Regions from separate parts of the Homo sapiens genome. Here regions 1, 2, 3 and 5 are each linked to region 4. Evidence: fine-mapped expression QTL. A gene starts in region 4. Each other region holds a variant in brackets. All regions are shown on one strand. Distances are between the middles of the regions. Region 1 overlaps MICAL3 (microtubule associated monooxygenase, calponin and LIM domain containing 3). Region 2 overlaps MICAL3 (microtubule associated monooxygenase, calponin and LIM domain containing 3). Region 3 overlaps MICAL3 (microtubule associated monooxygenase, calponin and LIM domain containing 3). Region 4 holds the start of MICAL3 (microtubule associated monooxygenase, calponin and LIM domain containing 3). Region 5 overlaps MICAL3 (microtubule associated monooxygenase, calponin and LIM domain containing 3).

Evidence for each region. PIP is the estimated chance that this variant, and not a neighbour inherited with it, causes the effect.
Region 1: its variant is the best candidate, but not a certain one, in a credible set for the expression of MICAL3 in whole blood (TOPMed, PIP 0.59).
Region 2: its variant is the best candidate, but not a certain one, in a credible set for the expression of MICAL3 in left ventricle (GTEx, PIP 0.73).
Region 3: its variant is the best candidate, but not a certain one, in a credible set for the expression of MICAL3 in whole blood (INTERVAL, PIP 0.70).
Region 5: its variant is the best candidate, but not a certain one, in a credible set for the expression of MICAL3 in spinal cord (GTEx, PIP 0.80).

Annotation. Positions count from the first base shown.
Region 1 is chr22:17,924,187-17,930,165 of GRCh38, forward strand. All of the region lies in intron 1 of MICAL3 (microtubule associated monooxygenase, calponin and LIM domain containing 3), which reads right to left. Among named protein-coding and RNA genes, the nearest start is that of MIR648, 54 kb to the right of the region's middle. The variant C/T (reference allele first, on the strand shown) is at 2,831.
Region 2 is chr22:17,875,588-17,880,587 of GRCh38, forward strand. All of the region lies in intron 16 of MICAL3 (microtubule associated monooxygenase, calponin and LIM domain containing 3), which reads right to left. Among named protein-coding and RNA genes, the nearest start is that of LINC00528, 100 kb to the left of the region's middle. The variant C/T (reference allele first, on the strand shown) is at 2,275.
Region 3 is chr22:18,001,139-18,006,685 of GRCh38, forward strand. The region is part of intron 1 of MICAL3 (microtubule associated monooxygenase, calponin and LIM domain containing 3); the gene reads right to left. Among named protein-coding and RNA genes, the nearest start is that of MICAL3, 21 kb to the right of the region's middle. RefSeq lists silencers at 1-27, 38-417 and an enhancer at 353-1,049. The variant T/C (reference allele first, on the strand shown) is at 2,513.
Region 4 is chr22:18,021,473-18,027,451 of GRCh38, forward strand. MICAL3 (microtubule associated monooxygenase, calponin and LIM domain containing 3) reads right to left here and starts at 3,089. Exons shown (of 32, transcript NM_015241.3): 1 at 2,809-3,089. RefSeq lists a silencer at 2,817-3,226.
Region 5 is chr22:17,907,802-17,913,780 of GRCh38, forward strand. All of the region lies in intron 1 of MICAL3 (microtubule associated monooxygenase, calponin and LIM domain containing 3), which reads right to left. Among named protein-coding and RNA genes, the nearest start is that of MIR648, 70 kb to the right of the region's middle. RefSeq lists a silencer at 2,722-3,016 and enhancers at 3,213-3,262, 3,273-3,542. The variant A/G (reference allele first, on the strand shown) is at 3,366.

The DNA of each region.
Region 1 (5,979 bases), 97 kb before region 4:
CACAGCCAAACCATATCACCATCCTTATGGGAAGGCCACCAAAGGACACCGTCAGTCCTCTCACAAATCCTGGAGAGCTCTGTGTCTGCAGTCAAGCTCCACAGACTCCAACTCACCAGGGCACAGCCAGCGGATCAGGCACATCTCACCCCTCGGACCAGTTCAGGTACAGATTAAATATACCGCCTTGAGAAATACCACTCACTGGGGCAAGGAAAAGCCAATGTACTCTGTTCAACTTAAATAAATATTTGATATAGATACAGGTTGGGCATCTCAAATCTGTAAATCCAAAACTGGAAATATTCCAAAATCTCAATGTTTTTGAGCATCAACAGGACACTCAAAGGAAACACTCAATGGAGCATTTCTGATGGCAGATTTTCCAATTAGGGATGCTCAACTGGTAGGTATAGTGCAAATATTCTAAAACCTGAAAAAAATATGAAATCCAAAACACATCTGATCCCAAGCATTTCAGAAGAGATATTCAACCTGTGCTAAACACCATGGACGTACTTTGTTAAAGGACCTTAATTAAGCAACCCTGTATTTCAGAAGACCTGCAACCAGAAGCCCCAGAGCATCTCAAGCCACAGTGTGAGAACAGCAGGTATTTCATAAACATTGCTGCAGGATGACATAGTAACATGCCCACAATAGCTCCAGTGCTCTGACCTTCCTTCCTCAGGGCAACTCAACCCACTGTTCACAGTAAGCTTCCATCCCTGCTGGCAACAGGTATTTCTTTATAACAACACAACAATGGCCTAACACACCCTGCAAACTGGGTGCCAACAGAACAATGAAATTGACCAAATAGCAACGGGGGGAAAGAGTCCTGGGATCCGAATAAGCCACAAACTGGATATTGGGCTCTGGATCCTGGAGAGCTACCCTCTGGCCAGAAACCAAAATGGGCTTGGCTCATTCCTGGTAAATATTCCAACCACACTAGGTGCCGAGCACCTGAGAGAGCAAGGGGAAGGGAGCCAGGTGAGAGCCACAAGCTGTACCAAGTTCCTGACATCAGGACCTCTGAAGGGCTCGGCCAGGAAACCAAAGGACTCAGAGCAGGGCTTCTGGCTCCCCAAAAACCACCACCAGGCCAGAAAAACATACTGTTCTCAGGACTGGAGGGCATGTTTTTCTATACCACTTGATTGCAGTATAACTTACAGACAATAAGAGTCACCCGTTTTCAGTGTACAATCAGTGATTTTTAGTAAATCTGCCAACTTGTGCAACCATCACCCTGGAGGGGATATTTAATATCTCCCAAACCTGAAGACGATTATGGTTCAGTCAGTTTTACGAGGAATGTGAAAAAAGAAGTTGATATCTACTTGTTGCTGCCAATTCAGCAACACGAAGGGAGCTCAGAGCAGGCAGAAAGCTGAGGAGGTCACAGCTATCTTGCCTCTGCCTGAAAAGCATTCATCTGGGCTTGGCTGGAGGACCTGGAAACTTAAACAATTTTTTTTTAAGTAACTCTTGTTGAGAATAGTGCTTCTCAAACTAAAATGAAGAACCCGTTCATCTGTCCATGTTTTCCCGGCACCCCTCCTTCCACAGTGTCGGAAGGGTACTACTGCACAAATCTCTCTTCACCATGACAGATCTTAGCACCACAGCCAAGGCATCAAACACGTTTCAGTTAAATCCTCAAACAGGCATTGTCCCTTCCTCCTGACAGCTGGGTGCTTTCAAAAATACTGTACAAAATGACAGGCTGTGAGTCCCAAACCCAAACATTTTCTAAATCACTGATCAAAGAAATAAAATAAAATTTATGAAAAAAAATGTTTTGACTTGGAAAACATAAACGCACAGGCATTTTAAGTGATGGTATCCATGGGACTGTAAGGTCTTACTGATGTCTTTCATCTTGACCTTGATGCTGGTCAAAGCTCTCAATTTTTCTTCATCAGTAGAACATGAGCAAAGATGCAATGAAAGGACAGTGGAATCAACAAAGCAGAACTGGTTAGAAGACTAAAGGTCTACAACTTCCCGATATACAATCCAACTTCCCTGAGTCCATTTCACCATCCTCAACCTTGGCATTCCAGGACGTCTGTGCCCTCCCAACAACAGCCTGGCTTGGAAAAGGAATATCCCAGGGGAGAAGCGTGAATCTGTAGAGTAACCGAAAAGCAAACCTGGTGGAGAACAAAGGATTATATAGCTGAACTCTCCTGCCCTGGTTTCTCTGTGCATGCTCCTCCGGCTTTTTATGCCACTTTCTAAGTAAAGAGGATGCTCAGGGCTCTGTCCTTGGCCCTCTTTCTATTTTGTTCTAGCACCATCTTTGTAACTGTCCCCTGGACATCTCCATCAGAATATGCCAGGGCATACATATTCTGCTCCAACTCAGGTTACTCAAAATAGAACCCCATCTTCCTTCCCAAACTTATGTCTCTCCCTGAATCTCAATTCTAGTAAAACTGCCATCTACCTAAGTCAGAACTCCAGGTGTTGGCCTCCACACCGCTCCTACTTCCCACTGCAAAAGGCCGGAGGCGTGGGCGTGCAGGCAACTGTACCATGCTAAGCATGGTGGGGAGGCAGCACAGTGCAGGGTATATTCGCATTTGCTCTTCCTAAATTCCTCGCCCATTTATTCCTTCCTTTCTAACGTCACTGCATTGGACTTCATTATCTCTACCTGGACCCTTGCAATAGTCTCTTAAATGTAGACCCTTCTTCAAGGTAATTTTGGTTTATTTTCTTATTGTGTTAAGATATATATAACATAAAAGTTGTTTTTAACCATTTTTAATTGTACAATTCAGTGGTATTAAATCCATTCACAATGTTGCACAACCAT[C/T]GCCACTGTCTATCTCCAGAACTTTTTTGTCATCCGCAACAGAAACTCTGTACCCATTAAACACTGGCTCCCCATTTCCCCTTCCTCAGCCCATGGTTGTCACCATTCTACTCTGGCTCTATGAATCTGTCTATTCCAGGTACCTCATATAAGTAGAATCATGTATTTGTCTCTCTGTGTCTGGCTTATTTCACTTAGTATAAGGGCTTCAAGGTTCATCCACATTGTAACATATACCATGACCTCATTCATTTTTATGGCTGAATAATAATTCCATTGTAGTCCACATTGCATTTAGTTTCTCCATTCACCCATCAATGGACAACTGGGCTGTTTCTACCTTCTGACTACTGTGCACAATGCTGCCATAAACATGGGGACACAAATACACCCTGCTCAAGTGTGCAATTCCCATACTATGTTTCTTCCAAAGTGATCTTTCTAAACAAATCTACTTAAGCCACCCCCTTGCTTACACTTTGAAAGACACCATTTCTCTACCAGGCTAACCTTGGGGCTGCAGGTCCTGCTTCACCTCCACCCTCATCACCTTAACCTCCCAACACCCCTGTACTCAGCCCCCGACATCTGCCTGCTGCTCCAGGAACACCCATGTTCTTTCCAGCACAGTTTCTTTTCACAGCCTAGAACACACTTTCCCCACCCGTGCACACACTTCTCTGAACCTCTGCTTGTCCTCTGAGCTGCTTCAGTCTTCTCTGAACTAAGGCAGATGACAAATATGAACCTCCTCATCCATCGGGGCTTTAGGGCCACATCTCCAAGCCCTTCTCAGAACAACTTTGCCCTTCCCTTCTTCCTACACCCAGATCTTACCTCTGTTCTCCAAGCACCTCCCACCAGGTGCTGGGCTCCTACAAGACAGCAAGTGGCTCTGCGTCTGGTTTCTATTCCCAGCATTTAGCAGCGCCAGAACCACAACACACACTCAGATCTTTGGGGAGTGAATTAAAGGTTTGGCTTCTGACTGTATACTCTGAGCACTCGAGATAAATTGGGTTTTATTTACATGTGTCTTGCCATACTTTACTATATGCAGCATAGCGTGGTGGACACATTCACCCACTGCAGGAACGCTACCTGATGCGAGGAATAGTACTGTTAGAAACACCTGTCCGTGGGCCGGGCGCGGTGGCTCATGCCTGTAATCCCAGCACTTTGGGAGGCCGAGGCGGGCGCATCACGAGGTCAGGAGATCGAGACCATCCTGGCTAACACGGTGAAACCCCGCCTCTACTAAAAATACAAAAAATTAGCGGGGCGTGGTGGCGGGCATCTGTAGTCCCAGCTACTCAGGAGGCTGAGGCAGGAGAATGGCGTGAACCCGGGAGGCGGAGCTTGCAGTGAGCCAAGATTGCACCACTGCACACCAGCCTGGGCGAAACAGCAAGACTCCGTCTCAAAAAAAAAGAAAGAAAGAAAGAAAGAAAGAAACACCTGTCTGCATGCGTCTTCATGTAGTGTATGAGATATATCTAGTGTGGTGAACACATTCACTCACTGAGATAAGACTACTGTGATTCACATGTGCAAGGAGCACTTAAGAAACATAAAGCCAACTTTACGTAATGCAGTACATGCACCACGCTTTGGTGGACACATTCACTCCTTGAAATAACACTGCCCTGATACGATGAACAACCAGAACACTTAGATGTTTCATACCGTGGCTTTATATATTGTGTTACATGCCCCATAGGGGGGTGACCATAATCACTGTAATGACACAACCCTGATGTGACAAATGACTGGCACCCTTAGAACTTTTTTTTCTTAAGACGGAGTCTCACTCTGTCACCCAGGCTGGAGTGCAGTGTCGTGATCTCCGCTCACTGCAAGCTCCACCTCCCGGGTTCACGCCTTTCTCCTGCCTCAGCCTCCCAAGTAGCTGGGACTACAGGCGCCCGCCACCACGCCTGGCTAATTTTTGTATTTTTAGTAGAGATGGGGTTTCACTGTGTTAGCCAGGATGGTCTCGAACTCCTGACCTTGTGATCTGCCCGCCTCGGCCTCCCAAAGTGCTGGGATTACAAGCATGAGCCACGGTGCCCGGCCCTTTTTTTTTTTTTTCCTTTTTTAAAGAAAGAGTCTCCCTCTGTCTGCCAGGCTGGAGTGTAGTGATGCCATCATAGCTCACCGTAACCTCAAACTCCTGGGTCAAACAATTCCCCCTACCTCAGCCTCCCAAGTAGATGGAACTACAGATGTGCACCACCACGCCTGGCTAATTTTTTTTTTTTTTTTTTTTAGAGGCAAAGTCTAGTTCTGTTGCACAGGCTAATCTCAAACTCCTGGCTTCAAGCAATCCTCCTGTCCTGGTCTCTCCAAGTGCTAGGATTAAGAGGCATGAGCCACCATGCCCAGCCTCCAATATTTTGTTTTTAAAACCATGTGTAAGTTGGGTTATTTAACTTCCAATTCCTGAAAAAAGACCGATAAGTAACAACATTTTTTCCAAAGGCTCCCCTCTGTAAACAGGCCTGAAACCCATCTGTGCTCTATTTCATTTTTCTTTCTTTCCTTTTCTTTTCTTTTTTTTTTTTTTTTTTTGACAGGGTCTTGCTCTGTTGCCCAGGTTGGAGTGCAGTGGCGCTATCTCGGCTCACTGCTACCTCCGCCTCCCGGGTTCATGCCATTCTCCTGCCTCAGCCTCTTGAGTAGCTGGGACTACAGATGCCCGCCACCACGCCTGGCTAATTTTTTGTATTTTTAGTAGAGACAGGGTTTCACCTGATGCCCAGGCTGGTCTCGAACTCCTGACCTCAGGTGATCCACCCGCCTTGGCCTCCCAAAGTGCTGGGATTACAGGCGTGAGCCACTGCGCCCGGCCTCTATGCTCCATTTCAGAAGGAATAAACCTCTTTAAAGCAAAAGGGCTATGTGTAACCAAGAAAACTCTCATATCTGGAATGTAGAAAAATTCTGTATAAACCAATACGGAAAAAAACAGACACCAAAGGAAAAACGGGCAGAAGATTTGATCAGGCATATCACAAAAGAGGACACTCAAATCACCAAGGCATGTGAACAGGTGTTTAACATATTAGTCACAGGAAGTCCATCAAAACCATAATGAGATCCTATCACCCATCAGAATAACTAAAATTAAAGACTGACAATGCCACGAG
Region 2 (5,000 bases), 150 kb before region 4:
AAGGAAATGTTAAATTAAGTCACACACTGACCTCTGAACATAAGATGGTTGTAGAGCCTTTTACTCTAGACCTTTATCTAAATACCATGTATAGTAAAAAAAAAAAAAAAAAAAAAGTAGCTCCAGAAGCATAAGCGGCCCATGCAAGGCTTCCGTTTTGCTTTTAACTGTCCTTCCCTCATGCTTGCAGCAGAGCACACCCTGGAACGCGGTCCCGCAGCTGTGGGCCGCCCGGCACAGCCTCGGCCTCCCTCTGAATGGGTAAGGCAGCCTGCAGGAAGGGCAGGGGGATGGCTTGTCGACTCACATGCTCTGTGCTCTGCCAAGCAACCCCCGGCCTGAGCTGGGATTTCTCCAGGGCAAAAAGATTCTCCCGCCACCCTATCACTCCATTGGCCTTAGAAGTAGCAGGCAGCGGAGACAGCAAATCTAGAGTGAAGCTCGCTCCTTCTACAGAAGGGCCAGGAATGCAGCATCTCTTCCTTCCACTTAGTGCTCAGAGAGGCTCTGCTTGCCAAAGAGCCAGCTGAATCCCAAGCAAAGATGAGGAGAAAAGACTTGAGCCCAAATCCTCTGCAGACTGCACATAGCACACGTAACAAAACTGGGCAAGGGTCTCCCTTAGCCGTGGGCCCATGCAGCTAGGAACCCAGTCCCCAGAGATTGAGGCAGTGACCGAAAGCTTTGGCAACCAATAACTGCTTCATTTCCCACCAGGTTCAGAATGAACTATTTACAGGTGGGAAGGACAGCATTAAGTCATGATGCTAGAAAGCCCTCTGCTCCTCCAGCTCCAAGCCAGATTGGTCACACTCCCTACCTCAGCCACGTGCACTTCATAGCTCCGTGGGGTGGCGACATAGACTGGCAGTTACCTGGTACTTCAACACCCTCTGCTTGAGACACTCAGCCAGCTCCTTGGCCCTGGGCTCAGCAACACAGGCCCCAGAGGGAGCTGGAGAGGATGGCTGTAAGCACCGCCCCTCAGAAGGAAGCAAGAGGGAGACTCAGTAGCCCCCTGGGGGGCAGAGCAGTCAGAGCCAAGGGGAGGAGTGGGGGACTGGGTAGGACTGGGTAGAGGTGGGGCAGAGAGGGCAAGTACACATGCAGGGTTATGGAGGTTAGGGAGGTTATGGAGGTTAGGGAGCTTATGGAGGTTAGGGAGGTTAAGGAGGTTAGGGAAGTTATGGAGGTTAGGGAGGTTAGGGAAGTTATGGAGGTTAGGGAGGTTAGGGAGGTTATGGAGGTTAGGGAGGTTAGGGAGGTTATGGAGGTTAGGGAGGTTAGGGAGGTTAGGGAGGTTATGGAGGTTAGGGAGGTTAGGGAGGTTATGGAGGTTAGGGAGGTTAGGGAGGTTATGGAGGTTATGGAGGTTAGGGAGGTTATGGAGGTTAGGGAGGTTAGGGAGGTGAGGGAGGTTATGGAGGTTATGGAGGTTATGGAGGTTAGGGAGGTTATGGAGGTTAGGGAGGTTATGGAGGTTAGGGAAGTTATGGAGGTTATGGAGGTTAGGGAGGTTATGGAGGTTAGGGAGGTTATGGAGGTTAGGGAGGTTATGGAGGTTAGGGAGGTTATGGAGGTTAGGGAGGTTAGGGAAGTTATGGAGGTTAGGGAGGTTATGGAGGTTATGGAGGTTAGGGAGGTTATGGAGGTTAGGGAGGTTAGGGAGGTTAGGGAAGTTATGGAGGTTAGGGAGGTTATGGAGGTTAGGGAGGTTATGGAGGTTAGGGAGGTTAGGGAGGTTATGGAGGTTAGGGAGGTTAGGGAGGTTATGGAGGTTAGGGAGGTGAGGGAGGTTATGGAGGTTAGGGAGGTTAGGGAAGTTATGGAGGTTAGGGAGATTATGGAGGTGAGGGAGGTTATGGAGGTTAGGGAGATTATGGAGGTTAGGGAGGTTATGGAGGTTAGGGAGGTTATGGAGGTTAGGGAGGTTAGGGAGGTGAGGGAGGTTATGGAGGTGAGGGAGGTTATGGAGGTTAGGGAGGTTAGGGAAGTTATGGAGGTTAGGGAGGTTATGGAGGATGGCAGCAGAGTCCAAGAAAAGAACTTAAGTAGTGTCCTCAAAAGTATCCAGCCTGGAGCCCTGCACTGAGGAGTGCAGAAACCAGTTCAGAGGGAAAAAGAGAGAAACATCTCTGCAAGCCTTATTGCCTCCTGAGCTCAAAAACCCTAACTCATCCCCTCTCTGCACCACAGCCCTAAACTTCAAATTGTTTCTCACTGCCAATCTCTCCTATTCAACATGCTCCCCTCCCTTCTTCTTTTTTTTGAGAC[C/T]GAGTCTGATTCTGTCGCCCTGGCTCTGTCGCCCAGGCTGGAGTGCAGTGGCGCGATCTTGGCTCACTGCAAGCTCTGCCTCCTGGGTTGATGCCATTCTCCTGCCTCAGCCTCCCCAGTGGCGGAGACTACAGGCACCCGCCACCATGCCTGGCTAATTTTTTTGTATTTTCAGTAGAGACAGGTTTTCACTGTGTTAGCCAGGATGGTCTCGATCTCCTGACCTCGTGATCTGCCTGCCTCGGCCTCCCAAAGTGCTGGGATTACAGGCCTGAGCCACCGCACCCGGCCTTCCCCTCCCTTCTTCTTTTAGGCGCTGTTTCATTAAACATTATCAGCATCTCATTAAATACACAATCTGCAAAATGGAGGGCACTGCCCTGCTCAGTGAAAAGGGCTGCTTTCCTTTTTGAGGGGACACAGCCTGGGAAGAAGAGAGAAAGAGGCTGGGCACACAGCGCCGTGGGAGAGCAGCCCCAGAAAGGGTGAGCACCGTGGGGCGAGGCCATGGAAAGGGGGTGGGAAAGACCCCCACCTCCAGCCCAGTCTCCACTCTCCGACCCAGCACCAGGTTCAGGCAGCACACACATTGCCCGCTGCTAGCCTGGTGAGAGGGCGCAGGAAGATGGCACTATGATTAGCTCCTATCGGGTCCGAGGGGTAACCTAATTTACTGCTTGGCCATAACTGCATTTCTCAGAGAGCAAAGGCAGAAGGGAGTTAGAAACCAAAATGGCTTTTGTGAGATTAACAACTAGAGATGATTCTTCCCGCTAGCTGCAGAGCTGTACCCACTTGGAGATCTTTAAGGGTAGGAATAACAAGAACAAAAGTTTCATAAAGTAAGCCGGCTTCTTTAACTGGGCATCTCGGCTATCCCTCACATTGTACGATGGCCAGCTGCAATCAGTAATTTCTCCCCTCAGTGTTTCAGAAAAGACTAAAGCTTTCCACGGGTACAGCCCCATTTTGCCATCACCTACCTTTCTCCCCCTCATTCTCATCCCACTGGAAAAATCCTCACGCTGGTAAGAGCTTTGGCTCTCTTAGGATTTCCACTTCAAGATCCGTGACTGCTGAATGCCACTTGAATACTGATTTAGACCCTCTCCCTAAGAAGTTGTATCTGACAGTCCAATGCTACTACTCTACCACTGGCACATAGTTTGGGGGTAGAAATAGTATGGTCTTGGAAGGGGAACAGTGGGCAGAAATGGGAAGTCATTAAGGCCCTTTACAATACGCACATTTAGGATCAGCATCCCATCTGAATGCCAGATGGGTGACTGCTTTACAGTGAATGCTATTTGCATTGGTCAACACTGCTAGCAAAAAGAATTCTGGCTCTTGGCTGGGTGACAAGAGCGTGCAAAAAGCAAGGGGAGGGGGCCGTCCCCCATATCCCTTCCCGCTGCCCCACCACCACAGCGTGCCCCGTGTGCTTGGCTCTCAGCATCCCATGCCACGGGTTCATGCTCTTTTACCCTCTCATGGTGGGGGCTCTGCTTGCCACGGTTGTCAGCATCAAGATCCCTGTATGTCTGTTGGCAACAAAGTAGAAACTTAAGCTCCATGCATATCGCTCTATTTGGACCTACTAAACGACAGTGGGAAATTCAGGGGCAGAAATGCAGAGTTCAACACATATCGCCTTCCCCTACTAACCCCATCCCCAGGTAACCATAATCCCATCTGTATCAAATCCCATGACACAAGGCCGACTTTCTGCACAGCCATTCCACCCCCCACTGGCCTCCGACGAGGCCAGCTACACGGATCAATGAAGAACTATGGTTAGTACAAAGGTGGAACAAGCATATTTCTTTCACACAGTGGCATAAGATCAGAGGCATCAAATGGAAGGTTTAGAAGGAGAGGCAGGTTAAAAGGGTGACACATTCCACAACAAGACATTTTAGAAAGCAAAGGTGGGGAGGTGGGAATTGGCTAGAATAAATGACTAAGACAGCAGTCCAGAGGAAACTCCAGAGTGGGAAGTGGTTCCTGAATAGGAGCATCGGGCCAAAGCATAATTTACTAAAGGGAGAAGTGAATGTGTTTTTGGCGAATGGACGGGAAGGTATATGTGAAAGGGTAAAGACCTGCAGGTAGGGACATGGCCTTGCTCATCCGAGGAGCCAGAAGCGGCAATCACAGGACCAGGGAAGGCTCCTCGCATTACTCTCTGGCTGGCTAAGGGTTCACCTTACAGCCACGTGCGGGTGGAAAAACAGCCCCAAGGCCTCTGACGTGGCTGCTCCTATCTAGCACCCGTGAGCATAATGTCTCTGTGGGCAGAGGGAGGCCAGAGCGTAGCCCCGGTCCCACAAGCCAGATTCGAGTCTGGCTGCATTGCTTACTATGCGGCTCAGACACGTGACATGGCCTCTCCACTCTATACTTCAGTCTCCTCCCTGGTAAAACGGAGCCAGTAACAGCACCTGCCTCACAGGGTTACTGTGAGAACTGACGGAGACACAGCTTGAGAAGAACTGAGCGTGCTTTCCAGGCGACAGCGGACGCTGAGGACGGCTAGCTCTTGTGTAGATGAAGGCACCCAGCAGCTGCTCAACCTGCAACGGCTCAGTTCTGAGAACCATGGACACAGGTGGGGCCTTTAAAATCAGTCACGTTAATACGGTCACACTTTAAACAGGCCACCCTAGGTGGGAAAATGTCTTTCCATAGATCCTGCTCTTGAAACTCACATTTTATAGAAACATACC
Region 3 (5,547 bases), 21 kb before region 4:
GGGCTTCCTCGCGCCCCGCCGGCCGGACGCAGGGTTATAAGCGCAGCCGGAAGGAGGCGCCCGCGCCGCGGCGGCTCCCGGCTTCGGCACTGCCCGGGCGGGAGGCTCGGCGCGCGTCCGCTCGCGGGGCCACCCGCTCCAGAACCGCCCGCCGGAACCAGCCCGGTGCCCGAGACCCCGAGCTCGGGCGCGAGCAGGATGCGGCTCCCCGGGGACGGTTGGCGCGGGTCGGAGTCCCGAAGCCCCGTTCTTACCTCTGCCTCATACTGCGGTGTCCCTCGGCGCCGGCGTCGCTGTGGCGGGCCAGTGCCGCCCTGTTCCGCAGCCCGAGCGTCCGGCGCGGTAGGTAGCAGCCGGAGAAGCGGCGCAGCCGGGGGATGGGCGGGCACATGGAAGGGCGGGGGTTGTGGCCCTCGGGCCGGACCACGGGACCCCAGCCTCGGGGGCGAGATATCTCAGTACACCTCGAAAACTGGCAAGCGGCCCCCGTCCTCAGGGACTCCATTGCTACTTGCACGCTCAGTCTTGCCAGAATCTCACGGGATATGTGCAAAAGGCAAAGAAATAAGCTGTCGCCACGCCCTTCGTCCTCTCCGTCCCCCTGCAGGATCCATATGGTACATTCCTCAAAGCCCAACGGGAGACGGGAAAGAACTGATTGGTTGGGAATCTTGGAAGGGGCGAGAAGCCACATGAAGTGGCCAATGGAGAAACCCGGTGGGCATATCAAAGCCTGCCCCCGGAGAGAAGAGAGGATGTATTTAAAGGGGACTTGTTGGCCGGGCGCGGTGGCTAACGCCTGTAATCCCAACACTTTGGGGAGCCGAGGCATGCGGATCACTTGAGGTCAAGAGTTCAAGACCAGCCGGGCCAACATGATGAAACCCTGACTCTACTGAAAATACAAAAATTAGCCGGGCGTGGTTGCACGGGCCTGTAGTCCCAGCTACTCTGGAGGCTGAGGCAGGAGAATCACTTGAACCCGGGAGGCGGAAGTTGCAGTGAGCCGAGATGGTGCCACTGCACTACAGCCTGGGCAACAGAGCGAGACTCCATCTAAAGAAAGAAAAAATAATAATAAAGGAGACTTGTTTGTTGCTCTTAGTTGCCGCAAAATGAAACTAGGATTTTCATTCTAGTTGGGAAGCAAAGAGGTTAGGGGGAATTTCAAATTTTTGGAGGAGGGCGCTAAGAGAAAATATAGAGCAGAGGGCGGGCGCGGTGGCACACGCCTGTAATCCCAGCACTTTGGGAGGGAGGCCGAGGCGAGCAGATCACAAGGTCAGGAGCTCGAGGCCGGCCTTACCAACATGGTGAAACCCCGTCTCTACTAAAAATACAAAAAATAGCCAGGCATGGTGGCGCGCGTCTGTAATCTCAGCTACTTAGGAGGCTGAGGCAGGAGAATCGCTTGAACCCAGGAGGCGGAGGTTGAACTGAGCCCAGATCGTGCCATTGCACTCCAGCCTGGACAACAGAGTGAGCCTCTGTCTAAAAAAAAGAAAACGAAAATATAGAGCGAATTGAACCAAATATATCTTGTATGACCTTGAGCAGGTAAGTACAACCCTCGGCCTCAGTTTCATCATCTGGTCCAATGAGGATACTGGAATGCACTTGGTGTCTGATGGCCTTCACACACTTCATGTGTGATCCTATCATCCTTTGCACAGGAATAGCAATACCTGCAAATATTCTTCAACTTTGAGCATTATCCACTATCTTAAAGAACTTTAGGCTGGGCGCGGTGGCTCACGCCTATAATCCCAGCACTTTGGGAGGCCAAGGCAGGCAGATCACGAGGTCAGGAGATCCAGACCATCCTGGATAACACGGTGAAACCCCATCTCTACTAAAGATACAAAAACAAAATTAGCTGGGCGTGGTGGTGGGCGCCTGTAGTCCCAGCTACTCAGGAGGCTGAGGCAGGATAATGGTGTGAACTCGGGAGGCGGAGCTTTCAGTGAGCCAAGATTGCACCACTGCACTCCAGCCTGGGCAACAGAGCAAGACTCCATCTCAAAAAAAAAAAAAAAAGAACTTTAGTTGAAAGTCGATAGACTTTCTGACACCTACTTTCAGCGACAGTATCAACCCCACCTTTGGTAAAGATGAATCCTGTCTTCTTTCTGGGTCCCTCATCTCTTAGAGAAGAATATTCTTCTTATGTGTGGGGCCCTCCACCTCCAAGTAGTTCATAATTTCTACTTCTCCAGGAAGCACCCCTTTCTCTTCCTTCTCCCTTCCTTCTCATAATCAGACAAAACTTCGATTAATAATTCATTCACCCAATGAGCTGTCCACAATTCCTGCCTTCAGCAACAAACCCCACTGCTCACCCCTCCCTAGAGCTGCGAAAGTGCTCGTCCCTAACTCAATCTGTGACAACCATTCAACCACACATGGCCAATTGTGCTTTCATCCACACTACAAGCCAAATTTCAGACTTTCTAACCACTCCTTGGGGTCTGCTCTGTTTTAGAGCTTTACACCAGCCTGCTAGGCTTACAAT[T/C]TGGCTACCAAGCTTCAGCTCCATCTTCTTTAGTTCAGAACTTTTCAACCTCCCAACAGCTGGTCACCCCACTGCCACTCAACCAGCTTCCAATCACGCAGGGAGTCTGGGATACCCTTTCTTTATTTTTTTTTTTTTAAGATGGAGTCTCGCTGTGTTGCAAGTCTGGAGTGCGGTGGTGCCATCTCAGCTCACTGCAACCTCCGCCTCCCGGGTTCAACTGATTCTCCTGCCTCAGCCTCCCAAGTAGCTGGGACCACAGATACCTGCCACCACACCTGGCTAATTTTTGTATTTTTAGTAGAGACAGGGTTTCGCCATGTTGGCCAGGATGGTCTCGATCTCCTGACCCTGTGATGTGCCTGCCTCGGCCTCCCAGAGTGCTGGGATTACAGGCATGAGCCACTGCGCCTGGCCCCTGGGATAGCCTTTCTAATACCTCCAGATAACTCATCTTCCAACTATAATCCAAAGAGCTCTGGAAAGTGCATCCCTCCATGAAGCCTTCCAGATTGATTGCCAGAAGCTGCTAGCTTACAGAGCTTCCATTTCTACTCTGTGCCTTGCCATAACCCAACTGTCCATGCTCTCTGCCCCAATATACATTTCTTTTTTTTTTTTTTCTTTTTCTTTTGAGACTGAGTTTCGTTCTTGTTGCCCAGGCTGGAGTGCATGATCTCGGCTCACCACAAACTCCGCCTCCTGGGTTCAAGCGATTCTCCTGCCTCAGCCTCCCGAGTAGCTGGGATTACAGGCATGCGCCAACACGCCCAGCTAATTTTGTATTTTTAGTAGGGACGGGGTTTCTCCATGTTGGTCAGGCTGGTCTTGAAATCCCAACCTCAGGTGATCCACCCGCCTCGGCCTCCCAAAGTGCTGGGATTATAGGCATGAGCCGCCGTGCCCGGCCAATATACATTTCTTATTGACATATTTCCCTATCTCCCTGATGGCCACAGCAGCAGCAGCCACAGCTTACATTTATTAAGTGCTCACTATGTGCTAGGTACTGTTGGGAAGTGCTTTGCCCGCATTATTTAACTTCACCCTCATATCAATTCTGTGATGTTCCTTATTATTCGCCTTAGTACCGTTTTGCCTTCCTGAGGAAAACACAAGAGCTTAGTGAAACTGATCTGCCCGAGTGCACACAGAGGTCTGACATCTAGTGCCCCCACCATAACTCCACAACGCAATACTGTCTTGAGTTTCTTAAGAATCTACTGCATGCCAGATGAAAGATAATCTCATATATTTACTTATTTATTTTTATTTTTATTTTGTTTTTTTTTATTTTTTTTGAGGCAGAGTCACACTCTGTCACCCAGGCTGGAGTACAGTGGCGCAATCTCGGCTCACTGCAACCTCTGCCTCCTGATTTCAAGCGATTCTCATGCCTCAGCCTCCCAAGTAGCTGAGATTACAGGCTCGTGCCACCACGCTTGGCTAATTTTTATATTTTTAGTAGAGATGGGGGTTTCGCTATCTTGGCCAGGCTGGTCTCGAACTCCTGACCTCAGGTGATCCACCTGCCTCGACTTCCTAAAGTGCTGGGGTTACAGGCGTGAGCCACTACGCCAGGCCTCATACATTTATATTATGTTTACATTTATTTCTATACCTATAATATCATTTCAGTCTCAAAACAGTCATGTGAGGAGAGTTGGTAGAAGTCTATTCACAGATGAGGAAGGAAACTACAGCTCAGAGAGCATGACCGTTTGGCTAAGGTAGCAAGGCTGGTAAGTAACTGAGCCTGGCTTTCCACACTGCATTCTTTCCATTGCAATTCCTGCCCCCTGCGTGAACACAACCTTTTTACATGTAACAACCAGAGAAGGAGGAAACAAATACAAAATAGCAAAACCTAAGCCACAGGGTTTAGGGAGTGTGGTACAAGGAGTGCTTACAGGGGGCCAGAAAACAAGTCAAAGAAGACTTCTATGAAGGGTGAGATCACTGTGGACTTCTTTATACTGGTTTGTTGTTTATATTCTGCCCATGAGAGTGTGTCTTGGACACATCTGGCAGATTCAATAGCAAAAGGCCACAAAACTGCCCCGTACCGCTGGAGTGCTGGTGGCTAGAATTAGCCCCATGTCAATGAAGAAGGGACTTCTGTGTGCAATGCTGCTGCCGACCAGTTTGGGAAAGTTCTCAACTGGCTGTTTAGCAAACTATCCTGCTCCACCGGCAGTTTTAACACTCCCCTGCAAATACAGGCTGGGCTCATTATTTCTTCTTTTTCAACTGTTGACATCCTCACAGGGTTGGAGAGCCTAGCAAAATTGTGTGGGAGCAGCAAACTTTTAATATTGATTAAGCAGCCTGAACAAGGTGATTGTGAGGCCAATACTTCTGAGTTGTTCTTTGCCAGGTCCAGCCATAGTCAATCAAGTTAATTCTCACTCCCATAGCTCTCTCTTTTCTCATCCCCAGAGAGCTCTAAAATGTCTCTGCTTATCTGAGTGCTTTCTTTATGCATTCAAACATTTATTGGGCACCCACTACAAGCAAAGAACTGGCAGCTTGTGTGGGGTTATCCTGATGGATCCGCACATGAAGTGTGTACTTAGTGCATGGGGTGATTAAATATCAGACCCCCTTCCGTAAGGAAGGAATCTGCCTGAGAACCTCAGAGAGTGCAAGTGGATCCCATCTACGGCGAAATGTAGGTGCTCACGTTGGGAAGTCTGCCCCCCTAGTAGGAGAAGGAGCACTAGGTTGAGAAATGGCCCTGGGTTGGGGAGATGGGCAGTGTCCTGCGGAGGTGGAGAGTGCCCAGAAATAACTGGACACTTAGTAAACAATAGGGAGAATCATCTAATTCAATCCGCAATGGAGCCGGTAGAAGATTTGTGGAATATGCTATCTTATTTTCAATTTAAAAAATATTTTCTGGGCTGGTGACGGTGGCTCATGCCTCTAATCTCAGCAGTTTGGGAGGTCGAGAAGGGCAGATCACCTGAGGTCAGGAGTTTGAGACCAGCCTGACCAACATGGAGAAACCCCGTCTCTACTAAAAATACAAAATT
Region 4 (5,979 bases):
CCTGTGGGAGGCCCAGGTGAAATGAAGGCATTGTCTCAAGAGGTCAGGCTGACTCCAGGAAGGAACAAAATGATGCATGCATGGCTATGCACAGACTAGAAAAGCAAAGACTAAAGGGAAGGATGGAAGTTGTTCTAACTGTTTTGGGTTGCTTGGAGGGAGTGGGGCATGGGAGAGGGAGGGAGTGTGTAGTCAGTGCGTGGGAATGCAGAAAGGAGCATGCAGAGACAAGCAATCTGGTAGGCCATGTGGGAGACTGTGGCCATTCTATGGTAGGGAGACCCTTCCTGGCCACTCCCTCAGTGGCCCTGGCACATTAAGCTTTGTTGTCCACATTGGGTGGGTTGTGTATGCTTTAAACAACATCTTAATCCCCTTGCCTATTTATGAGGTGTATGACTGAGCCGTGCCCAAGAGTTTCAGAAGATATGGTACCATCATTTATACCTATCTCGCAGGAGATCTTAACCCCTTCTCTACTTAACCCAAATGAAAGCGAGGTCATTAGGAAGCTGTGCCTGGTGAAGTTCTGGCACCAGGTGGGTAGATCACATTTTCTAGTTTATGTAAAATTTTAACATTTCAGACCCCCAGTTTTAAGACCTTATCTAATTTCCTTGAGCCCCTTAGTCATTGTGAACTCGCTGTGGAGTGTCTGCCTCCACCTGCCTTGGTGTTTATGAACATTCATGGTAACTTTAGAAGGCAAGGGTTAGAGGAAACTTTTTGCCGCCCACCCCCAGTCTGCAACAGTACCTGTGGGGAAGATTTTACCCTGGGACTCCAATTTTCAGGGAGAGGAAGTTTCTAGGATTTCCCATAGGCTTACGAGGGACTCGCCATGTGGAAGGATTTTAGGCCTGAGAAGGATAATAACACTTTATAATTTCTAGGTGATCTTATTTGTTGCCTCTTCCTTCTCCAGAGTGACTACTGCATTCCGACCTGCACCCCCACCCTTTTTTTTTTCTTTTGAGACAGAGTCTTACTCTGTCACCCAGGCTGGAGTGCAGTGGTGTGATCTTGGCTCACTGCAACCTCCACCTCCCTGGCTCAAGCTATTCTCATGCCTCAGCCTCCCGAGTAGCTGGGACTACAGGCATGCACCACCACACCTGGTTAATTTTTGTATTTTTAGTAGAGACTGAGTTTCACTATGTTGGCCAGGCTGGTCTCCAACTCCTGGCCCCAAGTGATCTGCCTACCTCGGGCTCCCAAAGTGCTGGGATTACAGGCCTGAGCCTCTGCGCCCAGCCCCCTCTTCTGCTTTCTAAGTGTCCATTCTCCTTGTAGTGAGTGGGTGGTGGGGGGATATACACATGTGACTCTGGTTAGTACATAGGCAGCCATGAAGTCCACAAATGTACAGGGAGCCACAGCTTTCATGCTACAGACTTGCAAAGGTATGCATCTGCTTTCCCCTTGCCCTGGAATATAGATCAGAACACTTCATTTAGTGAAGGGACCTGTTCCGAGAGTGATGATCCCTCCCTCGTTTGAGACACTGCCTTCATCCTGAGCTTCTTGGAGCAGCCCAAGGCCCTGCCAGCTCTCTTTGCCTGTAGCTTGTAGGCATTTATGACAGTTGCATACCCTGCCCTCCAACGGCAGCCTGAGAGACTGAACTATTACCAAGTTCACCTGGAAAAATGTCACCCTGATTGATTAGAATGGTGGGTGGCCATCTTAGCTCATTAGAATCACCTGGGAAGTTAAAAAAAAAAAATCCAGTATGCACTCCAAATTTTCCCACCACCACTCCTCCCCACAAAAAGAAAATTTAAAAAATCCCAGTGTTTGGGCCATATCCCAGACCAATTAAGTCAGAATCTCCAGGGATTGGACCCAGGTAGCAGGATTTCTAAAAATCTCCCCAGCAGCCAGGCCTGAGAGCTAATGAATAGCACCACAGGGCCCAGCCTTTCAGCCTACAGCTTGTCTCGGTTTCACCCTTTTTTCATTTCTTTACAATGAAAATTCTAAATAGTTGATCACAGTGCCAGACCAATAAGAAAGCATTTTAGGGAGGAGAGAGGAGGGAAGGGGTTGGCAGGCACGGAGAGGACTTGACACACAGAAAGCATTTTGCTATGGAGTCATAACCATTTGATTCTAAGACACATGCAGCCTCCAGAAGTCATGCGGCCCCGCCCTCTGCTTCCAGGAGGGAATGAACTTGGCCGTCCTTTTGTTGCACACGCCCGGGAGCTGCGCCGGCGCAGCGCGCCCTGCAGCCTGGGAGCGCAAGCGTGTGCGCCACTGGTCCTGGGCCACCACCGCGCGCCGCGGGCGGGTGCAGGGCCCCTCTGCCGCAGGGAAACCGGCGTTCCCCGCGCAAAGCAGCCGCTGCTCCTAATGAGCTCATGGGTTCACCGCGCTGAGCTAGCCAGAGCGGACCCGGCTTCGCCAAGGGCCTGCTGGCTGTCCTGACACCTGGCCTACCTCGGGGGTGCCTGGGTACGCTCTTCCTTTGCCTGCGGGATAGAAGCACAATGAAAATGGGGTGGACGTGGCTGGGAGACAGCCCTGCTCTCTGGCAGGCTCTGGGGAGTGTGTGGTACGTGGCATCCGCACTGGTGGGTGTCGTGCGATGATCGAGACACGGATACTGGGTGTCTTTCCCACTAGGGGAGAGAGGGCTGCGTTTAGAGGGAAACGAAATAGATCCGAGAAACACAAAGATGTCACAAAGGAAACGCTTCCCCACCATAAGCAATCTAAATAAATGATTCTTAGAAGACATCCAGCAAAACACATAACCTTGTCATTTAGATTCGCTCGCCCACAGGGGGACTGGAGGGTACTCACCGACTAGGGCTTCACAGCCGCATCACCGCCGGCGGTGGGCGCCTGCCTCGGCAGGGGCAGGGTGGGTGCCCGCAGGGCACAGGTGCCGCCGTGGCTGCTCGCACAACCCCTGCAGCTGCGATCCCGCCCAGTTAGCCTCGGGGGCTGCACAGCCCAGCCCCCTCGCCCAGGGCCCAGGGGTTCTCAGGCCGCGCGGCGAGGACGGAGGGCTGCCCCGGGTGCCTGCCTACGCGGGCGCTCCCCGCCGGGACTCCGCCGGGGCTGCAGGAGCGCGCGCTGCTGGCTGGGCGGGCTGCGGCTCCGCGCGAGCGCCGTGGCAACGCGAGCGGGCGCCCCCAGGAGGCCGCGGAGCTGCGGCGTGGGACGCTTGGGTGAGGCTCAAGCCAAAACCAAACCCAAACCATTTCTCCTCCTCCCCATCTTTTCATTTTCTCCCCTTCTTTTCATTTTCTCCCCTTCTCCAACCCCTTCCTCGACACACGTTACTAGCACCTCGAAGGTTGGAAATTCCAGCACTCTCCTGAGGCCTCTTCCCCAGCGAATCCTGCTAACCACGCAGTCGGTGTTCGCTGTGTGTTCGAGCACACACCTCCTTGCAGTGGCTTCAGCACCCAGGTCTCCGGGAGCCAGTGAAGGAACCAAGTGTTGGATACTGAGCAAGTCGCGTAACATCTGAGTAGTCGTGAAATTGAAATTTCAACGGTATAAAGGACACGACGTTGTCTTACAGATTGAAAAATGCTATAAAATGAAGTTCTTACTGTTACTATGATGATGACCCTGGAGATCAGCGCAGAGCCCTGGGGGAGGGCTACAGTTGCAAGCGCTCCAAGGATCAGATCGCGCACTCCTCCCCACCGGAGAAAACCTCTTGATGCCGGAGCCCGGGCAGCCTCTTCCACACTTCCAGCCAGCCCCTTCCACACTTCCAGCCAGCCCCGGCATTGCCACAGCCCGTGGAGCTGGACAGAAATCCACCAGGCACTAAAATAAGTTAGATGGAAGACGGGATGGATTTGACCAAATTCCTATCAGCATCTGCTCAGTATAATTGCAACATTATAATCAGAGCAGAAAGAAGCCCAGAGATTATTTTGTCTTCAAGGATCATTGGCCTCAGTATTATCTCCATCTGAAGCTGTGTTGTCCAAAGCAGATTGACTCCAGCCGGCCAGCTCAGAAGAGGGCCGACTCTGGGCTGGCGACTCCTTGAGAAGGGCTCTCTCTGGTCCCAGGTGGTATTTACTTAACCGTATCATCATCTGCTTCATTCGTGTTCCCTTCATGTCCATCATGTGAGGACGGGAACTGACAGGGCCAGGGTGTCGGCTCAGAGGCAATCTCTGCTCATCCTCTAGAGCCCCACTTCATCACCCAGCCACTCTGTCCACTGTCTCCCCACCTACAAACCTGCAGGTGTTCTGCCCCAGTACTAGAATAAGGGAACACATTTTTACTGAGCTCTGACAATGTGACTGGGCTTTTCAGGAGCTATTTCATTTAATTTTTAATGTAAAACATTGTTTTACATATTAAGAACCTAAAAGCACAAACAGTAAGTAACTTGCTTGTGGAAGCTTATGCAGCGAGATAAGTGGTAAAGCTGCAATTCCCAGTTTTGTTTGATGCCACAGCTGAAGGTGCAAGGCCATCTGGGCACGGCCTGAGTGGATATTAGGGAAAAATGCCCTAAAAGGTCCAGAATCTCTAATAATTTCTCCTACTTCTCATTTTATTTTATTTTTGACGCTGGAGTTTTTTTTTTTTTTTTGAGTCAGGATCTTGCTCTATTGCCCAGGCTGGAGGGCAGTGGTGCAATTTCAGCTCACTGCAACCTCTGCCTCCCAAGTTCAAGCGATTCTCCTGCCTCAGCCTCCTGCATAGCTGGGACTACAGGCATGCACCACCATACCCAGCTAATTTTTGTGGAGATGGGGTTTTGCCACATGGCCCAGGCTGGTCTCAAACTCCTGAGCTCAAGCGATCTGCCCTCATCAGCCTCCCAAAGTGCTGGGATAACAGGCATGAGCCACTGCACTAGGCGAAAACGTTTATTTTAGAAAAACTGAAAAATATAGAAACATAAAGGAAGAAAAGCATTCATAATCTCATCACCTAGAGAAAGCCATTAGTAATATTCATATTTCTTTCCAGTCTTTTTTCTAGCTTTCTAGCTTTAAACTAAGTTGAGATAAAACCACACACACACACACACAGACACACAAGTGCATCCTGCTTTTTGTTAAAAATAACTTTGTGGGAAATTCTTCCTCCTTTGAGGATTTTTAAAAAACATTAATTTAAATGTCATACAATATTTTTATCATATGAATATCTCATAATTTCCCTTTTATTGAATATTTCCAACTTTTATTGATTGTAAATAATGGCAATAAAATTTTTTCTTCATAAATCTTGCTCCTATGTGTGAATAATTTCCTTCCAGGTGAGTCCCAGAAGTGGAATATTGAGTCCAAGGGTATTAACATTTTAAAGACTTTCCAATCCTCTCCAATGGGGATATCCAACTCACCCAGCCCCGTTCCCCACAGGACCTGCACGGTCCCACTCCACTGCCCTCCACACATCTGTTGTGCCCTCACCTGGTATATAGCATTTAAATTATTTAGCTCACAAACTCTTTGGGAAACTAGGGTTAGTTCTTTGTAGCTTTTTGGTTGATTATTTTGATTTACTCAGAAAAACGCAGTATCTCCTTTACTATTTTAAAATCCTCAATAAGTAAGAATAGGGAGAGAAAATAAGAGAAAGGGGTGAGCTTTCCAAGGCCCTGGGTTAAGCCAGGGATGCCGGAGCTTGGAGCTCACTTGATACTGACCCTGCTGATGGCCTCAGCCTCAGTCCTGCTATAGAAAAGCTGCCCTGTCCCTCTGATCCTCACGTTTTAATCTCAGCATTTACTGCTGATGGGATGATTGGGTAAATTGAAAAACTTGTCAGAGAGGGTTAGGCTTTGATGGGTGGGGTAGGGGAGACCTCTCAGGAAAAGCAACTAGAGTAATAGAACTGTCAAAGGTTGGCAATAAGGCTGTGTGATCTCGCTGATGGTTCTCCAAGATGAAATGAAACCTAATGCTGCTTTCTTCTTCCTTGAGAGAAGATAGCAAAGAGGGCAGAAGGTGAGGGCTGGGGGCTCAATGTCAACTCTAG
Region 5 (5,979 bases), 110 kb before region 4:
TCAAAGTTGGCAGGGATTAAAAGAACTGAAGAAGTCCTGCTATTGCGTAAGGTACAGGGTTGGGAGACTTCACAGTCATTCCATTTTCACCCTGAATCGAATTGAACAGCAGTAAATGACGATATCTATGCCTTCCACCTATGGAAATGTCCGCACACCTACGTCCAGTGAGTCTGCTGGACAGAGGCTGGGAGGTGGGAGATGGCACCGCGTGTACTCCTGCACCCACCGGCTCCTGTGAGTCTGCAGAATCGTTTTTGCGTCACATCTGATGAAACCTCACCACTGGAACTGTATTGGAAGGTGGGAGGCAAAAGGACAAAGGACAAAACTAGTGAGTAGAGAGTGGGTCAGGGTGACAAGACGAGTGTGACCACAGGGCTGAGCCCACACAGCCAGACCCCAGCTGCACGACCCCGCTGCACAACTCTGGGTAAGCACTGTTGCACGAACCCTCAGTTTCCTTGTGTGTAAGACAAGGAGGTTAGACAGCGCCCCTAAGACTTTCTTTTTTTCTTTTTTTTGAGATGGAGTCTCGCTTTGTTGCCCAGGCTGGAATACAGTGGTGCGATCTCTGCTCACTGCAAGCTCCACCTCCTGGGTTCACTCCGTTCTCCTGCCTCAGCCTCCCAAGTAGCTGGGACTACAGGCACCCGCCACCACGCCCGGCTAATTTTTTGTATTTTTAGTAGAGACGGGGTTTCATCGTGTTAGCCAGGATGGTCTCAATCTCCTGACCTCGTGATCTGCCCGCCTCGGCCTCCCAAAGTGCTGGGATTACAGGTGTGAGCCTGGCCAAGACTTTCACTTCTGAAGTTCTCCAAGGCTACTGCTGAGAAATCCACATGCCCACAGCACTTGCTCCTGGTGCTCTCATCACAATGGCCCAGCACAGGCACATCACCAATTCACCACGAGAGTGACCAACACAACTGGACTGGACTTTGCTTTAAAGATGTACCCTTGGGGTTGGGTGCAGACAGAGGAAGGGAGTGGTTGATGCACTACGTTCAGCAGGCATGTAGAAGCAAGAGACTGCCCACTATTCAGCTGCAGGTGCTGCTGAAACCAACTCTTGGAAGACAGGCACCATGTTCCAGAATGATACAGAAGAGGCCCTGAAGCTCTTACTTTGGGTAAGCACACTGAGCAGCAGTGTGAAGTAGAAATGACATGCCACTTCTCTCCGCACCTCACCATGGTATCACAGGATTAAACCAAACCAAATGAGATGCATCTTAAGTTTCATGAGAGAAAGTTGTAACTAAATACAAGGAACTGCCCTCTCCACCTTATATTTTCTATGTCAACAGACACAACACTCGTCACATAATGTGGAGGATACATTGCAGATGGAACACACTGGCTGGGCTTTTCGCCTCAAATATATCACGTACTCAACAAACCCTCCTGGCTCTAGATATTAAAAACTATACTGCTGGCCCAGTGTGGTGGCTCATGCCTGTAATCCCAGCACTTTGGGAGGCCGAGGTGGGTGAATCACTTGAGGTCAGGAGTTCAAGACCAGCCTGGCCAACATGATGAAACCCTATCTCTACCAAAAAATACAAAAATTAGCCAGGTGTGGTGGCACACGCCTGTAATCCCAGCTATTCAGGAGGCTGAGGCATGACAATTGCTTGAATTCGGGAGGCGGAGCTTGCAGTGAACTGAGATTGTGCCACTGCACTCCAGCCTCAGCGACAGAGTGAGACCCTGTCTCAAAACAAAACAAAACAAAAACAATACACTGTTAACACACATAGCTTCTCTCAATAGCCACATGGCCAAGAGGCCAGCAAGAAATGGAGTTAACTGGAATTAACATTCAGTTTCCCCAAAAAAGAAAGGTTTTATTCTAGGTAGCAGCAAGAGAAATACTTTACAGTTCCTAAAAAGGGCCCATTATTTATCTTACAAGCCAAGGCTTATCTTAGAAATGTTAGAAAGTCAAAAGATGGCTTGTAGGGCAGGAAAGAGCAGATGTGCTTATGTGAAGGCAGGAGAAATGGTGACAGCTGACAACCCATGACTAGAAACAAAGGTCCCACACCATTTTCTACATCAGGGACCCTCTTTGCCTCCTGACCTCTTTGTGGGACTTCTGAGGCTTCACTTGCTCTTTGACAAGCACACAGCATGGCACAATCCTGACCCTGTGTGCCCTGCCTGCATTCACAGTCAACCTGAACTCCACCAGAGTCACAGTGTTTGGTAAGCTTTGCATACACTGGGTCTGATCCACCGCTACCTCATGTCAAAGAAGAAAATGACTTTTCTTTGTTTCTAAACAGTAGCCACTTTCAACTCCTTGCCAGGATTCAGAGCACTCAGAACCATGACATTCTTGCTGAAGCCAATACATTAAAGGTCCTGCAACCCATAACTCCAAAATCCTTCCCGTCATAGCGCCTGCCTTGGCTTACACCTACCCTGAAAGAGGGTCTTGGGCACTTATTTCCCAAGAAGAGTTCTTACGTGTGAGCTAACAACCCCATGGCTGGTTGTCACCCACTCGGTTTGAAATAATTCACTTCCAAAGAGCTGCTAACCGCCACAAAGAATTTCCAAATCAAACCCCACTACAGAGGAACGGCTTCACTAATAACTGTCCCCAATCCTTCTGCTAGTGAAAACACTTTTAAATTAACAGATGTCAGCCACAGCTCCCAGAGAGCTGCAGAGCCAACCAGCAGGCAAGTTTTAATTCCCCGGCCGAAGAGATTTCGACCTGCAGGGCACTGGTGACAATGGATGAACAGAGGCAGGATGGCTCCTGGAACAATGCGACCGGCACCCAAGGTAAGACGACACAAGATGAATTCCCTTGGGCTGCCTCACTTTTCCTGCTTTGCAGCTGAATGATGACTGCAGCGCAAAGACTCCTCCAGAGTGTGACAGCATTGCTCTGTGGCTCTGCTGGGCTGGGCCTGTCTCACTCTGCAAGGGGCTTACCCGGCATTCTCCTTGGCTCTGACAACAGCCGGGAAGCACAGCAGAGCAGGGCTATTTCTGTTACCGCCCCCATTTCCCTCATTCCTTAAGGTCAAAGCCAGATCATGCTCCTCCTGGCCTGTCCTGCACCACCCTGTGTACAGTTCATAATCACAGGAACCTGGAGACCAGGAAACCTGGCAGGAAGGTGCCAGAAATCCCAGAAACTGAAAAGCCAAGGTGTGCAAGGAAGGGGTAGAGGAAGTGAGGAGCCGGGTTGGGGGCTGGGGGAGGAAGAGGAGGTGATGCCAGGTTTCCAGGCATCTGTGAGTCTCTGCCAGCTGACTCCAGCCTGCATGTTTTGTCCGCAGCAGCTGACTGCTGACTCAGAAGCCCCGCATGGGCCTTGGCTGTGGAGGATGGCACTGCAG[A/G]GACGGCCTCTGAAGCACACGCAGGACATGGTTATGTTTCTATTTATAACAATAGTTGAAGGTTGTCACTGACTTCTGGCTGGCTATGAGAACACTCAATCTCTAGCTCTTAGAAGAGGTAGCTGGATGTTTGTGGGGGAGTAGAAAGGAGAATCATGTTTAAAAATAGAAAAAAAAAAAGAAACAAAACAACAAAAAAGAATGACACTTCAAGAGTATGGCATCAGAGTGAAGCTTAGTTTTCTCCCTAGCCAATGCACCATGAACACACCAGCGAACGTGCAAATTTCTGAATCTTACACAGCAATCTGTGAACTGCGCCTTCCCCTAGCCCATTCAGTCAGAGGTATGTCTCATCTAAACAGATCTTGAAAGCGGGTGGAAGGCCAGGTGAGGTGGCTCATGCCTGTAATCCCAGCACTTTAGGAGGCCAAGGTAGGAAGATCACTTGAGCCCAGGAGTTCAAGACCAGCCTGGGCAAGACGGTGAGATCCTGTCTCTTCAAAAACAAAAAAATTAGCTGGGTGTGGTGGCATTCGCCTGTGGTCCCATCTACATGCGAGGCTGAGGTGGGAGGATTGCTTGAGCCCAGGAGGTCGAAGCTGCAGTGAGCCATGATCATGCCACTGCACTCCAGCCTGGGAAACAGAGCAAGATCCTGTCTCAAAAACCAAAAAAAGAAAAAAGTAGGTGGAGAGGAACACTTGATCATATTTTCCCTCAGAAACCAGGACCCAAATCGCCAACATGCCTCGGGCTCCTGATCTGTCTTCCTTCAACATAGGCAACTTAGCATCATTATTTGAAAAGCCTGTCCTTTCCGTACTGAGTAGTCCTGGTATCCTTGTCAAAAATAATTTGACCGTAAGTGAGGTGCATGAGGCTGAAGCAGGAGGATTATTTGATCCTCCCAGGAGCTAGACTCCAGCCTGGGCAACATAGCAAGACCCCATCTCTTAACAAAACATAGTTTGACCATATATGTTAGGGTATGTTTCTGGGCCCTCTATTGTATTCCATTGGTTTATATGTCTGCCTTTATGTCAGTACCACACTGTTTTGATTAGTATAGCTTTATAGTAAGTTTTGAAATCAGGAGGCATGAGTCCTCCAGCTTTGGTCTCCTTTAGAAGGGCTGTTTTGGCTATTCAGGGTCCCTTGAGATTCCATGTAAATTTTAGGATGGGTTTTTCTATTTCTGTAAAAAAAAAAAAAAAATCATTGGGATTTTGATAGGGATTACACTGAATGTGTATTGTTTGGGTAATTGTGACATCTTAACAATAGTAAGTCTTCCAACCCATAAGCGTGAATTTGTTCTCATTTATCTTTTAATTTATTCCAGTGATGTTTTTTAGTTTTCACTGTACAAGGCTTTCACCTCCTTGGCTAATTCCTAAGTGTTTTATTATTTTTGATGCTACTGTAGACAATTATTTTCATCATTTCCTTTTCAGACTGTTCACTATTAGTATATAAAAATGTAACTGATTTTTGTGTATTAACTTTGTATCCTGCTACTTTGTTGGATTTATGTACTAGCCTTGAACAGGTTTTTCTGGTGGAATCTGTAGGATTTTCTACACATAAGATCATATCATCTACAAATGGAGATAACTGTCTTCCTTTCCAATTTGGATGCCTTTTAATTTCTTTTTCTGGCCTAACTGCTCTGGATAGAACTTCAGGATTATGTTGGATAGAAGAGGCAAAAGTGGGCATCTTTGTCTTGTTCCTGATCATACGAGGAAAAGCTTTCTGTCTCTCACTGTTGAACATAACACGTACCATGGTTTTTCGCATATGGCTTTTACTAGGTGAAGGTAATTTTCTTCTATTCCTAGTCTGGTGAGTATTTCTATCATGAGAAGGTATTGAATCCACATGTATTGCATCCTGGGATCTATCCTGACTCTCCATCCTATTTATCATCAAGCTGACACTCAGCAGGATGGAGAGGAAACATGAAGCCAGCTCCTCCCCCCACCACTGTGCCCTTCCCCTCTCCTGCCTGTCACCCGGCTGCACTCCTCATCTGCTCCTGCCACTCTGCAAGGACATTATTTAAATGTCTCTCTCCTCCATTGTGAACTTCCTTAGGGCAGGGACTGGGTCTCTGCGCTATAACCCGACCTGGAGTAGAAATAAGTCGTGTTTCTGTGGAGGTGACGAGGGTAGGATGGAGCCCAGCAGCTCTGTACTTGAAGGACCGGTCCTGGGGAAAGCACTAGCCTGGCCTGCGTGGCTGCGGAAGGTGAAGGAGACCTGGACACATGTTAGAGAAAGACTTCCAATGTGCTACCAAAACGTGGTATCCAGGAATGCAACAGTCAGCCTGGGCGGGCAGTGACAGTCTAACAGGAACACTGCAAGAGTGTGGCATTTTTCTCATGACCAGCACTCTGCTTGGCTGGGTGTGGATGACCCCTCTCTAGAGGCATCTGAGAAGAGCCAGACCCAGATAGCCTCTGGGTTCTCTTCCAAGTCCCTAATCCTGCAGGACTGTAGTACAGTCCTAACACTTATGTTGTATCTTTTCTAATTTTCATTTCTATTCTTTGCTAACAACCTATTTCTTCATGAAAACCAAGTTAAGAACATCCACGCAGCTGAG